Homo sapiens: one gene and its partners. The protein of the gene in region 4 purifies or fractionates together with the protein of the main gene of each other region. This does not show direct contact. Each region holds a gene or a part of one and is shown on either strand. Other genes may lie near its edges.

Region 1 (3,500 bases), about 15 Mb from region 4:
GCCCACCCTCCCTCCCCTCCTCTCTGTTCTCCATCACAGGTCCCTGATGAAGACAGGCCACAGGTAAGGAAGGTATGGAAGTGGCAGAGGTGATGTCAGCACAGTTGAGTTGCTTCTGTTCCCTCTGAAATGCTGGAGGACACAGATGTACACAGTGCCTCATCTCAGGAAGCACAGACATGCGCTCCTCTTCCCACCAGAAGAGCAAGTCATCTCAGGCCCCATTCTCTTGGCAGCAGTCCTCTGCACTGTGCCTGAACTCCCAGTGGCAACTGCCCTTAATCCTTCCCATTCCGTGGTGATGAGCAGAGGTGGGAGGGAGAAAGCTGGACAGAGAAAGGGAGAAGGGAGTGTGTGTGTGTGTGTGTGTGTGTGTGTGTGTGTGTGTGTGTGTAGGGGGAGGAGCCCAGGAGAGCACAGCCATGGGTGAGGGGCAGTGACTCACAGCTTTCAAGATGCTGACAGCCTCCTTGCTGAGCCAGACTGGGTACAGCACGTCGTCATGGAGGATGGACTCAAATAGGTCGTCCTCATTGTCGGCCTCAAAGGGAGGCTGTCCAGCCATCATCTCGTACATCAGCACCCCCAGGGCCCACCAGTCCACGGAGGGGCCATACTCCAACTCCTGCAGGATCTGTTCAGGAAACCAGCAATGTCAGGCACCATCAAAGGCTCCCACCCCAGTGACACCCGTGCTACGAACGCCCATGGGAAGGACTTCAATTCCAACTTGCTCCTCCCTACAGTTGAGTCCTAGTCCTAGAAGTTCTAAATCAGCAAATTCAGTGACAGTTGAGTTTGGAGGCACTATGCTGGGGGCCAGCTATCATCTTTCCAAAGTCAACATCGACAGTCTGTCTTCCAGTGGGAACAAATTCCTATTTCTTTGAGCACCAGATAAAGTTCCTGACTGGCATGAGGGCCACATTTTAAAAAACTGCATATTTTGACACTAAAATCAGGGTCAGGGGAGCACGATGCATACTGAGAGAACAAGCTGTAAGTGACTCAGAGTGCAGCGAGGTCAGGTCTCCCATCTCACACAGTCCAGGGCACAGCTCACTGCCTGAGTGGAAAGGTGAGCAGAGGTCTTCTTTAAATGGTGCAACACTCAATTTACCTGAGCCCTGTGCTCCTGGAGAGGAAACTGCAATGAATAAGTCTCCCCCACCCTGTAATGGTCTCCCTATAAAGGACCACTATACTCTTGCATATTCTAAGAAAAAACCCATCTCTATTGTTCATCATGATTCCCATAAGATCCACTGAAGAATCCCCCACTTTGCCTGCCTCTACAAAACCGTAGGCCCCCTTCCTTTGGGGCCACCTTCACTAATGAACCCCCTATTGCAATAGCCAGAATCGAACCATCTCCTTGATTGTCTGGTGCATTTTGTCTTTGACAATGGTCACTTGTCTTATCTATGCTGTCTCTCTTTTTCCTCTAGCCAAATATGTAGAGTCAAATTCACTTAGATTAAATGCATGTATGACATGATGCTACTGAATACAAGACATCTTTTCTGGCTGGGCGCAATGGCTCACACCTGTAATCCTAGCACTTTGGGAGGCTGAGGTGGGAGGATCACTTGAGTCCAGGACTTCGAGACCAGCCTGGGCAACATGGTAAGACCCTGTCTCTTAAAAAAAATTAGCTGGGCATGGTGGTACGTGTCTGTAGTCTCACCTTCTCAGAAGGCTGAGGTGGAAAAATCACTTGAGCCCGGGAGTTTGAGGCTGTAGTGAGTCATAATCATGCGACTGCACTTCAACCTGGGTAACAGAGTGAGACCCTATCTCAAAAAAAAAAAAAAGGATCTTTTCTGATTGGCTATTCTATTTGATCTGCTCTCCATACACATATGTCATAAATACATGATACACACACACGCACATATAAATATGTAGCATGTCAATGACATATATATATAAATACATATATATAAATACATATATATAAAAATACATATATATATATATGGAGATGACATCCAATAGAAAAGACTAGAATTTAATATCACCTTTCAGCTGTATAGAGCTTTGTATTTTACAGTATGCCTTTAAAATATAACATATATAAATAAAATAAATATGTAGCAGATCAATGATGTGTTTGGCTCAGAGGAAAAATAAATGCTGAGCTGTCCACTCTACAAGGAAGAGATCATGAGGTGACATTCCCATTCCACAATTATTTTCTCTTCTTATTAGAGTGGGATTAGGCATGGCTCTGCCCAGAAACAGGAGGGTGGATGAGATGACCTATCCAGGTCCATAATTCTATAAAGAATTTTAAAAAGGGAAGGAGAAACAAGGTTGGAGTGCATATCCTGCAAGGGGGAACACTTTGAGGACCCTGAAAAAAAAAGGCAAAGTTCATGCCTAGTCATTCCAGCCCATGGGACACCTTGGGCAGATAATATCTCAGGCTGGGGACAAGGCTCCAATTTAGTTCTCAGATTTCATGGTGGCCAGGGAAGAGGAGGCTGAATTCAAGTATCTGGACTTTCTGTGGTCTGCTCAAAATACCCTTCTAGAGGTTACAAATTGCTTAGGATGAACTAGAAAGATTTGGATAGAAGAAGCATTTAGAAACAGTTAAAACACTCACAGTTTAGAATCTTCTGAATTTGGAATGAAAAGGAATTTGAGAAAATGCAGCCAACTCTACATTACTTGGGGCTGGTAATCTGTTTAGCTAATACCTTTGGTCTAAGCCCAGTGGTTAGTGTTCCTTGAGCTGTAAGGTCAAAGCTATGGGCTCCACTGTCCTGAGGAGCCAGTGATTCTGCTATGCTCCAAAGCCAATGCCAACTCCTCCCTCAACCTCAAAAGACACAGCGCCCAACTTAAGACCCCTGCCTGTTCCTACGAGTTGCAGGCACTTTCTCACTTTCCACATACCACTACGTCGTTAGTTATTTTTTCATGGCCAGCGGTCTCCCCAGTGCAACTATAAGGTACCAGAGGGTAGGAGCTGTAACATGCTACTGAGCCCAGTGCTGTGGCCAGCCTGTTCTATCATCCAGGAGACAGTCAACATCTTGTGACTGGCTAGCATGCATGGCCACTGTGTGTATCTACTGGGCATGCTCCCTTCTCTTCTAGCCTCAGGGCACACTGGGTGCTACAGTGGCTGCCCTCCAGCTTCTCGGAAGGAGGCAGCTGGGTTCTGTGCCTTCAGGGGGTGGGGAGAAGGTGGCTTGTGTGTGCTGAGACTGGATGGTGCTGTGGAAACCACAGAGCCGCCCTGCCACCCCACTCCAGGCCCCTTCCACAGCCTTCTCATTTTGGGTGGCATCTTTTGTAAGATTCCTTTTAGGCTTGGCTCTAATTATCTGCTTCCTAATTAACTGTCGGCAGTGGATCTGGGCAGAAGGGCAAGGCTTCCATGTCACGGGAAGTCACCTGGAGCCAACCCCTCAAGTGCGTCAGAGCTCGGGAGAAGGGAGAAGGGAGAAGGCATTGGCCCTGATGATGCTATTACCAAAGGCTGGTGG
Region 2 (3,500 bases), on a different chromosome or scaffold from region 4:
CATAAAGCCTACTGCCTTTTTTTTTTAAAGATGGGGGCAGAAGAAGATGGTTAAGAAAGAATGGAAACAATCTGAAACTTACAGTTGACTTGCAGAGCTAATCCTAATTTTTATTATAATGACCTTAGGGTTATCAAAGAACAAGTCTCTTGAAAAATGGAAACTAATAAGAGTGTAAAATTTGTATTTACTCTAAATTTTAAATTTTTATAACTTGACTTTTTCTCATAAAAACAGAATAAAGGAGGCTGGACGCAGCAGCTCACGCCTGTAATCCTAGCACTTTGAGAGGCCAAGGAAGGCGGATCACTTGAGTCTAGGAGTTCAAAACTAGCCTAGGCAACATGGCAAAACCCCATTTCTATTATTTAAAATTAAAAAATTAATTTATAAATTAAAAATAAAAATGAATAAAAATAAAATAATTGAATAAAAGATTGACATAGCTCTCCTCAAGTTATCTCCTCAACTCTAAAATCTTTACTACTTAAAAAGCAACCTCGGCCGGGCGCGGCAGCTCACGCCTGTAATCCCAGCACTTTGGGAGGCCGAGGTGGGTGGATCACAAGGTCAGGAGATCGAGACTATCCTGGCTAACATGGTGAAACCCCGTCTCCACTAAAAATACAAAAAATTCTCCGGGCATGGTGGCAGGCGCCTGTACTCCCAGCTACTTGGGAGGCTGAGGCAGGAGAATGGCGTGAGCCCGGGAGGTGGAGCTTGCAGCGAGCCGAGATCGTGCCACTGCACTCCAGCCTGGGCAACAGAGCAAGACTCCATCTCTAAATAAATAAATAAATAAATAAAAAGCAATCTCAATATTTTTCAGAAACTCCAGTGCTTCAATCTATTCCTCTCTCTATCCAGATATTAAATATTAAATTTTAAGGTATGAAAAAAAACCTCTTCACCATTTGAAGAATTTGTGATCTTTAATTACAAAATTATATACGATTAAATTATAATATACAATGATAAATTAAAAATTATACAGTCAAAAACCCTCATTTGATACCAGATTACAATTTTCTTCAAGTTTTTCCAATGTAAGCAACATTAAAAATGTTTTATGTTGGCCGGGCGCGGTGGCTCACGCCTGTAATCCCAGCACTTTGGGAGGCTGAGGCGGGCGGATCACGAAGTCAGGAGACCGAGACCATCCTGGCTAACATGGTGAAACCCTGTCTCTACTAAAAATACAAAAAATTAGCCGGGCGTGGTGGCCGGCGCCTGTAGCCCCAGCTACTCAGGAGGCTGAGGCAGGAGAATGGCATGAACCCGGGAGGCGGAGCTTGCAGGGAGCCGAGATCGCGCCACTACACTCCAGCCTGGGCAACAGAGGGAGACTCCATCTCAAAAAAAAAACAAAAAATTTTATATTAAAACATTTGTAATCCACAAAGTCTGAATGAGTAAAATTAGTATTTGCATGACAAATTTTCTAGTGAAACTCATCTACATCACCATTTCACAGTCTGAAAAATAGCTGGAATAATAGGTAAATATAGAAGTAATAATAGCAATCCAATCCAAAATATGCCGACATTATTATGGACATTAAGTTTCTGAAGTTAAGCTCTACAACAGATGTACTATCTAGAGATAATCCTTTCCAAAATAATCAAGACTCACTTTCACTGCTATCTGGTAAAACTTGAGGTATTCTTTTGACTCCTTGGCATGATTCTCACACAATAGTTATTGCAATTCTTCTACCTCCTTAAGGTCCCCAATCCTCATTCACTAAACCTCATTCTAAGGATATCACCTGAGAAAGTCATTGGTTTCTTCATATTCTTACCTCTCACAATGTCTACTTTCACTTCTATCGCACCTCAGAGAAAGAGATCTACCTCCTTTCTAAGGTTAACTCCTTAGCCACAATAAATAAGCCCATTTCTTCTTACCACTTTCTGGAAATAACTGCAAATCGTTATTCCTTCAACTCTCATATTTTGCTCAGTACCATCCTTCCCTTCCCACTGGCTCCTTCCTGTCTCCAAACAATCCAAAAACAAAACACAACAAAACACCCCTTACTTTAGATTGTATTATATTTATTTCCTTTCACTGATAAATGTTTGGTTTGTTTTTGAGACAGGGTCTCACCTTGTCGCCCAGGCTGCAGCGCAGTGGCATGATCATGGCTCACTATATCCTCACACTCCCAGACTCAAGTAATCCTCCCACCTCAGCCTCTCAAGTAGCTGGGACCAGAGGCTCTTGCCACTATGCCCAGCTAATATCTGGGGGTGGCGGTTGGGGGAAGAGAGAGGCTCTCACTATGATGCTCAGGGTGGTCTCAAACTCCTGGACTCAAGTGATCTTCCTGTTCCTTTCTTGGCCCTCCAAAGTACTGGGATTACAGGTGTGAGCCACTGCGCCCGGCCTGTTTTGAACACGCCATCCGTACGTTTTTTTTTTTACTCACACAGTTATTATTTTCAACACATCTACTACATGCTTAATACCGTGAAGCCAAAGAGAAGTAGAAACAAGACATCTATGGCATCATCACAACTAGGGATACAAGATACTGTTATATGTGATTTAAGTGATGTCCCTGCAGAACAATCTTTGTAACAAAAACATACTGAGAAAAGCACACAGCATCTATGTTCTCTTTAACCCTCTATAATTGGCTTCTTCCTCTAACTCGAGCTGTATACCCAGATGTCACTAATAAACTTCTAATAACCAAATTCAAGTCTTTTTCCAGGCCGGGCACAGTGACTTATGCCTGTAATCCCAGCACTTTGGGAGGCTGAGACGGGCGGAATACTTGAGGTCAGGAGTTCAAGACCAGCCTGGCCAACATGGTGAAACCCCATCTCTACTAAAAATACAAAAATTGGCCAGGCATGGTGGCAGGCACCTGTAATTCCAGCCACTCGGGAGGCTGAGGCAGGATAATTGCTTGAACCTGAGAGGCGGAGGTTGCAGCGAGCTGAGATCGCGCCATTGCACCCCAGCCTGGGTGACAAGAGTGAAACTGTCTCAGGAAGAAAAATAAAAGTATTTTTCCCCCTCAGTTCTCATCATCCTTGCCTTCTCTACAAGTATTAACACTGGTGATGCAACTACCACCGTCAAAACCTTTTCTTACCTGAAGTATTCAGAATACCAATCTCATCTTTATACCTTGAAATCTATGATGAAGACATGTTTGTAACAAATGATTTTTTCTAAAAATCAAAATGATTAAAACCCAGCCTTGTCAACTGGCTCCTCTGATTGCCCCCGTCTACCTTTAGAAGAATATAATTTCTGTTTCTCTCCCCTCCTAGCCCCCACCTCCAGGTGACTGAGGAACTACTTCCATAAACAGACATCTCAGATGTTTTCAATTCCTCCCATTACCACCCATATCCAATTAATCTTTAAAGTATCTGCTTGAAGTTGCTCCACGTAAATGCCTAGCCTATACAAACACATGGCTCCCACCCTACTCAGAACTTGTATAATACAAATCTTTCAAGAGACAAGTAATTAGATATACC
Region 3 (3,500 bases), on a different chromosome or scaffold from region 4:
GGGGCCCAGCTGCCCTCCTCCCCATACGGCCATACGGCCCTGGCTCTCAGGAGCCACAGGAACCCTCCAGACAGCCTGTCTCTGGTTACCATGAAGACAGCTGACCCAGCAGGGGTCAGTCCATTTACAGCGACCCCCGGAGACTGGCTGCCCTCCTGCTCAATGGCTCCCGGGCGGGGCAGCCTGTGGATCCCGGCCAGGATGGCCCAGAGCTGATGGAGGGTCACACGGACACGGCTTCTTGGTCCCTACCTTTAACATTGAGAGTCTGGAGCTGGGTCAGGTTCCCAATGGAACGTGGGAGCTGCATCAGTTGATTCCTTTCCACGTTTAAGACCTAAGAAAGAGGAAGAGGCAGCCAGGCGCAGTGGCTTATGCCTGTAATCCCAGCACTTTGGGAGGCCGAGGCAGGTGGATCACAAGGTCAAGAGTTCAAGACCAGCCTGGCCAACATAGTGAAATCCCATCTCTACTAAAAATACAAAAATTAGCTGGGCATGGTGGCACACACCTGTAGTCCCAGCTACTCGGGAGGCTGAGGCAGGAGAATTGCTTGAACCCAGGAGGCAGAGGTTGCGGTGAGCTGAGATTGCACCATTGCACTCCGGCCTGGGCAACAGAGTGAGACTCCGTCTCAAAAAAAAAAAAAAAAAAAAAAAAAAGAAAGAAACAGGAAGAGGTGACACGAGAACCCACACACAGACCACAGTGATGACCCCCGCACCCCTCGCCCTGCCGGGCCAGGGCACCCAGGCACTACACACACAAGCTCTTATCTCCCCCTACCGGCCCTTGAGGAAGACAGAAATTCTTGTTTCCGCTGGAGACAGGAAAAAAACTGAAGCTCAGGGTGGCAAAGTCACGTGCTCAGGAGAGCACAGCCAGGCCTTGAACCCCTTCTGGCTGAGGTTCCAGCACTTACACCGACCACAAAATGCTCAGTAACTGCCCCACCATCAGGGAAGGAGGGAGAAGGGGACTACAGACTTGGGGATCTGGGGAGGCAGCACAGGAGGCTCTAGTTCCCCTGGCCTTAAGGAAAAGGCTGCCCTAAGGCCGTGTGATCCACCCAAGGCCTCAGGCCGGCAGTGGTGCTGGGACTGAACCAGGGCTTGTTGGATTCCGAAGCTGTGCTCCCTCCAGAAGGTGGTACCTCGAGGTGAGCAAGGCTAGCAGGATGACACACTAACCATTAAAAATAGATGCAATGGGGGCCAGGCACGGTGGCTAACACCTGTAATCCCAGCACTTTGGGAGGCTGAGGTGGGTGGATCATGAGATCAGGAGATTGAGACCATCCTGGTGAACATGGTGAAACCCCGTCTCTACTAAAATATAAAAAATTAGCCAGGCATAGTGGTGGGCGCCTGTAATTCCAGCTACTTAGGAGGCTGAGGCAGGGGAATCGCTTGAACCCGGGAGGTGGAGATTGCAGTGAGCCGAGATCACACCACTGCACTCCAGCCTGGTGATAGAGCGAGACTCTATCTCAAAAATACAAACAAACAAAAAATGATGCAATGGAAAGCTAAGTAGCCATTAAAAATAATAAGATGAATATTTGATGAACCAAAGGATGCTATGAGTTATTGTCAGGTATCCAAAAGTTACAAATTAGTGAATGCAGCAATTCTATAAAAATACACCTACTGGCCAGGTGCAGTGGCTCATGCCTGTAATTCCAGCACTTTGGGAGGCCAAGACGGGTGGATCACCTGAGGCCAGGAGTTTGAGGTCAGCCTGGCCAACATGGTGAAAACAAGTCTCTACTGAAAATACAAAAATTGTCCAGGTGTGGTGGCGTGTGCCTGTAATCCCAGATACTCAGGAGGCTGAGGCATGAGAATCTCTTGAACCCGGGAGGCAGATGTTGCAGTGAGTTGAGATGGTGCCACTGCACTCCAGCCTGGGTGACAAGAGTGAGAAAAAAAAAATACACATACAAAAAGTCCTACACCAAGGTATTTATTGTGGCTCAAAGTGGTACAATTGGTCAGGCGTGGTGGCTCACACCTGTAATCCCAGCACTTTGGGAGGCCAAAGTGAGTGGATAACTTGAGGTCAGGAGTTTGAGACCAGTCAGGCCAACAAGGCGAAACACCATCTCTACTAAAAATACAAAAACTAGCTGGGAGTGGTGGCACACACCTGTAATCCCAGCTACTAGGGAGGCTGAGGCAGGAGAATCGCTTGAACTCGGGAGGCAGAGGTTGCCTCTGCAACTCTGATGGCGCCACTGCACCCCAGCCTGGGCAACGCAGTGAGGCACTGCCTCAAAAAAAAAAAAAAAAACCCCAAAGGGCCAAGGGGAGGGTGGAGCTGGCACTGATTGCAGCCTGCTTCCACTGGCTGGAGCCCGGCCAGAACATTCCAGGCTTGAGTGACTGCCTGGTCTCACTAAGGCCATCCGAGGTGGGTTTCTGTTTCTGCAGCCTTACCTGGAGGGCAGTCAGCTGCCCCAGATCGTCAGGAAGGGCTGTCAGCTGATTATCGTGGAGATCTAGAACCTGCAGAAGAAAGACCCCTGTGAGTCTCCAAGTGAGAAAGTCCCTCAGACTCCGGGCTCCAGAGCGCTGAGGAGGGGCTGGGGCCACCTCACACCCCCAGTGCAGAAACAGAGTGCCTGCCACTCCTTTCCCACTCAGTGTTGATCATTCCCGCCTCATTTTCCTTCTCAAACCATTATACCATTTTCTTATTTTATGTATATTTATTTTTACTGTTAACTGAAAAACTATGCTATAAAACAGTATGCCTAGATACTAATATGTTAAAAAGAAACACTCCATTGTATAAATATGTAAGACTTTCAAATATGCGATAAAATATTGACAGTGGTACTCCACAGTGTAAAATTATAGATGTTTCCCCCTTTGCTTAACTGTACTTGCTAATTTTTAATTTAATTTTATTTTATTTTGTTTTATTTTGAGACAGAGTCTCACTCTGTCACCCAGGCTGGAGTGCAGTGGCACGACCTCAGCTCACTGCAACCTCCACCTCCTGGGTTCAAGTGATTCTCGTGCCTCAGCCTCCCAAGTAGCTGGGATTACAAGCACAAGCCAACATGCTCTGCTGGTGTTTTTTTTTGTTTTGTTTTGTTTTGTTTTGTTTTGTTTTTGAGACGAAGTCTCGCTCTGTCGCCCACGCCGGACTGCGGACTGCAGTGGCGCAATCTCGGCTCACTGCAAGCTCCGCTTCCCGGGTTCACGCCATTCTCCTGCCTCAGCCTCCCGAGTAGCTGGGACTACAGGCGCCCGCCACCGCGCCCGGCTAATTTTTTGTATTTTTAGTAGAGACGGGGTTTCACCATGTTGGCCAGGCTGGTCTTGAACTCCTGACCTCAAGTGACCCACCCGCCTTGGCCTCCCAAAGTGCTAGGATTATGGGTGTGAGCCACCACGACTGACTGCTAATTTTTTAAAAATGAAAATGCACAAAAAAGGCCTTGGAGAAATATTTATACATGTGCACACACAGGTACCCTCCATATCTATGGA
Region 4 (4,254 bases):
AATAGCCAGGTTTGAGAATCACAGCTCTATGATGATGGAGTCTTACCTGTATCAGTAAATGACTGTATATCATATGTCAAGTCTATGTTGACACTTTCTGCATTTTCTACTCTCCGAAAAATTATCCCAAGGAACCACATTGATACGTAATTGTTGCTATAAAGTAAAATTTAAGAATTTCCATTAATTATTATTATTTTTTACAACTTTACAGATGCTATTTCATAATTAAAACTTGGTCTCTATGTCTCTATCTCACAAATACAGATTTCAGTGGTCTGGCCAGATTCTTAAAAGTGACATCCAGAACTGGTAAGTTATCCCCTGTTGTTCTGAGAAGGATTAAGCAGCTATGAAAATGACTTACTAAATATATTCTTAAAGATGCTCCAAATATTGTGATGGTGTTTTGCTGGGGTTTGTGGGCTACCAAAGTAGTTATGTACTTATTTTTAATGCCTAGACACTCAAACTCAAATATATAATGTGTCATACTCCCATCAATGCCTGTTAAACAAAAATCTCACAATTACTCTGAAATGATGCATATACCAAATAACATTATTTAAGAAATAAAGTATTATAAAACAATTAACTTACTCTTTATGATGTTCCTTATTCCCTGGGAATGACTGGGGATTCACATGGGCAAGAGTAATAAATTCATTCCGTTCCAAGTTTCCAACAAGTACACGGATTTTAGATTCTACTAATCCAACCCTAAAATAAACAACAAACACAATTTATCTTATGTCCACTTTAAATTTGAAAGCTACACTCAAGTAAACCAAACAGCATATTAACTACGAAGCTTTACATGTTCATTAAAAAACTTCGGGCTGGGCATGGTGGCTCACATCTGTACTCCCAGCACTTTGGGAGGCAAGAGTGGGTGAATCGCCTGAGGTCAGGAGTTCAAGACCAGTTTGGCCAACACGGCAAAATCCCGTCTCTACTAAAAATACAAAAAATTAGCTGGGTGTGGTGGTGAGTGCCTGTAATCCCAGCTACTTGGGAGGCTGAAGCAGGAGAATCACGTGAAACTGGGAGGTGGAGGTTGCAGTGAGCTGAGATTGTGCCACTGCACTCCAGCCTGGGCAACAGAGCAAGACTCCGTCTCAAAAAAAAAAATTTCAGGCCAGGTGCAGTGGCTCATGCCTGTAATCCCAGCACTTTGGAAGACTGAGGTGCACAGATCACCTGAGGTCAGGAGTTCGAGACCAGCCTGGCCAACATGGTGAAACCCTGTCTTTACTAAAAATACAAAAAAAATTGGCCGAGTATGGCGCACACCTATATTCCCAGCTACTCAGGAGGCTGAAGCACGAGAATTGCTTGAAGCTGGGAGGTGGAGGTTGCAGTGAGCTAAGATCACCCCACTGCACTCCAGCCTGGGTGACAGAGTGAGGTTCCATCTCTAAATAAATAAATAAATAAAATAAAAATTTCAGCCCAATATATTAGGAACCCCATTTTAAATGCAATTGTAAACACAATTGATTTTATATCAACTTTAAATATGAAAGCTACACTCAAGTAAACCAAACAGCATATTACCTATGAATCTTTACATGTTCATTTAAAAATTTCAGCCCAATATATTAGGAACCCCATTTAAAACGCCATTGTAGTAAATGACAAGTTAGTAGATTTCTGTGTGTTCTTTTTTTTAATAGAAGAACTAATCTATGTAATGCATTCCTGAATCTAAAATACCCTTAGTTAAGACTATAAAACAGTCATGGCTTAGGGCATGAACAAAAACTGCTGGTTTATCTAGTCCTGAATCTTTTTCTACCTTCAAATCTTATGTCTCAAACCTAAGGCTAGGCTAGGCCAGGTGCGGTGGCTCATGCTTGTTAATCCCAGCACTTTGGGAAGCTGAGGCGGGAGGATCACGTGAAGCCAGGAGTTCGAGATCACCTGGGGCAACATAGTGAGATTCCATCCCTATAAGATAAAAAAAAAAAAAAAAATCAGCCAGGTATGGTAGCAAGGGCCTGCAGGCCCCAGCTACTTGGGGAGCCGAGGCAGGAGGCATCGCTTGATCCCAGGAGTTTGAGGTTGCAGTATGATCACCCCACTATACTCCAGCCTGGGTGACAGTGAGACTCCGTCTCTAAAAAAAAAAATAAATCCTAAGGCTAAGATAAGTTTAAACAATGAAACTAATATTGGCACATAATATATGAAACAATCATGCTTGACTTTGCATTTAAAAAAATTCACGGGCTGGGCACGGTGGCTAACGCCTGTAATCCCAGCACTCTGGGAGGCCAAGGTGGGTGCATCACGAGGACAGGAGATTGAGACCATCCTGGCTAACATGGTGAAACCCCGTCTCTACTAAAAATACAAAAAATTAGCCAGGCGAGGTGCGGGCGCCTGTAGTCCCAGCTGCTTGCCAGGCTGAGGCAGGAGAATGGCATGAACCTGGGAGGTGGAGCTTTCAGTGAGCTGAGATCGCACCACTACACTCCAGTCTGGGTGACAAAGCAAGACTCCATATCAAAAAAAAAACAAAAAACAAAAAAAGAATTCACTAAATTTGGATCACATCCTATTAAAATACAGCAAGTCTCATCGGATTTCTGCAATTTTATTTCTATCTCACTTAAGAAATGTGACCGATGGCAGCTTGCTTATTAATGACTTTATGAATTAGAAACATTACAAGAACATTTTAACATTTTTTAAAAACATCAGCAAAAGCTTATACATTATAATTATGTGTGCTTTAACAGTAAATCTACAAAAATCTGTGTTATTCCAGTGTCATCTAAATGACGGGTTGGCAAACTTTTTCTGTAAAGGGCTAAATAGTAAATTTTAGGGTTTCTGGGCCATACAGTCTTTGTTACACCTATTCAACTTTGCTATGAAGCACAGAAGCAGCCATAGATAATATATAAACGAAGAAACATGGCTATGTTCCAATAAAACTTTATAAAAATAGGTGGCAGACTGAATTTGGCCTAGACCCTATTTTCTGACTGCAGATCTAGACAAACAAAATACTGTTTCAGTGACAGGATTATTTTCAGAGTTCCTTTAATTACCAATGAAATAAGGATTAAACTCTTGAAGCAAAAATAAAACAGTATTGCTGTTTTGCTTTTCCAGAAGTCAGACCCAAGGAAAGTACAACCATCTCTGGTGGTCTAACAGCTTCCGTCTGATAGAGCCAAGGATGTGAATATAGTAGAGGCAGAAGGGATAAATTTAGATGCACTAGAAAGAACACACTACTTCTTGACCACAAATATCTCTTACCTGTTGACGGAAGCTTAATCTGAAAGATTTAAGCCATTATCTCCTAAATTAAAAGGATATACAAAATGTCTTTTCTACTGAGTTTTGTTGGAGGTAAACACAATGGCAAAAATGAAAAACTCAGGCCGGGTGTGGTGGCTCACGCCTGTAATTCCAGCACTTTGGGAGGCCAAGGCGGGTGGATCACGAGGTGAGGAGTTCAAGACCAGCCTGGCCAAGATGGTGAAACCCCGTCTCTACTAAAAGTACAAAAATTAGCTGGGCGTGGTGGTGGGTGCTTGTAATCCCAGATACTCTGGAGGCTGAGGCAGAGAATTGCTTGAACCCGGGAGGCGGAGGTTGCAGTGAGCTGAGATCACGCCACTGCACTCCAGCCTCAGCAACACAGCGAGACTCCGTCTCAAAATAAAAAATAAAAACAAAGAAAAGAGAAACTCAGATGGTAGCTATCAGAATCATCCAAACTAGCTCAAAATTTTGCTTAAATCTGGCTGAGAAGCAATAAGAAGCAACATCTATACATGTGTCTTTTGCTCATGTCCCTCCTGATTCTGAAACATTAATTTGATGGCATATTTTAAACACTGAAGCTCCATGGTCATGCACAACAATCACCAGTAAGATATAATAATTTTACGGATCACTTGAGGTCAGGAGTTCGAGACCAGCCTGGCCAACATGGTAAAACCCCATCTCTACTAAAAATACAAAAATTAGCCACAGGGCATAGAAGTGCACACCTGTAGTCCCAGCTACTCAGGCGGCTAAGGCAGGGGAATCACTTGAACCCAGGAGGCGGAGGTTGCAGTGAGCTGAGATTATGCCACTACACTCCAGTCTGGGTGACAGAGGGAGACTCCTTCTCAAAAAAAAAAAAAAAAAAAAAAAAAAAAGGCCGGGTAAAGTGGCTCAGGCCTGTAATCCCAGCACTTTGGGAGGCTGAGGTGGGCGGATCACCTGAGGTCAGGAGCTCGAGATCAG

Evidence for each region.
Region 1: the proteins of PAPOLG (region 4) and PRKCE purify together in Homo sapiens (affinity purification with mass spectrometry; one large-scale study listed by BioGRID and IntAct). This does not show direct contact.
Region 2: the proteins of PAPOLG (region 4) and HNRNPR fractionate together in Homo sapiens (co-fractionation; one large-scale study listed by BioGRID). This does not show direct contact.
Region 3: the proteins of PAPOLG (region 4) and LRSAM1 purify together in Homo sapiens (affinity purification with mass spectrometry; one large-scale study listed by BioGRID and IntAct). This does not show direct contact.

What each region holds. Positions count from the first base shown.
Region 1 is NC_000002.12:46,148,175-46,151,674, reverse strand, and holds part of PRKCE (protein kinase C epsilon type), read right to left. Parts: intron 635-3,500; coding exon 446-634; intron 1-445.
Region 2 is NC_000001.11:23,323,785-23,327,284, forward strand, and holds part of HNRNPR (heterogeneous nuclear ribonucleoprotein R), read right to left. Parts: intron 1-3,500. UniProt on the Homo sapiens protein: Component of ribonucleosomes, which are complexes of at least 20 other different heterogeneous nuclear ribonucleoproteins (hnRNP). hnRNP play an important role in processing of precursor mRNA in the nucleus.
Region 3 is NC_000009.12:127,458,010-127,461,509, reverse strand, and holds part of LRSAM1 (E3 ubiquitin-protein ligase LRSAM1), read right to left. Parts: intron 2,508-3,500; coding exon 2,439-2,507; intron 338-2,438; coding exon 253-337; intron 1-252.
Region 4 is NC_000002.12:60,783,413-60,787,666, reverse strand, and holds part of PAPOLG (poly(A) polymerase gamma), read right to left. Parts: intron 721-4,254; coding exon 601-720; intron 157-600; coding exon 47-156; intron 1-46. UniProt on the Homo sapiens protein: Responsible for the post-transcriptional adenylation of the 3'-terminal of mRNA precursors and several small RNAs including signal recognition particle (SRP) RNA, nuclear 7SK RNA, U2 small nuclear RNA, and ribosomal 5S RNA.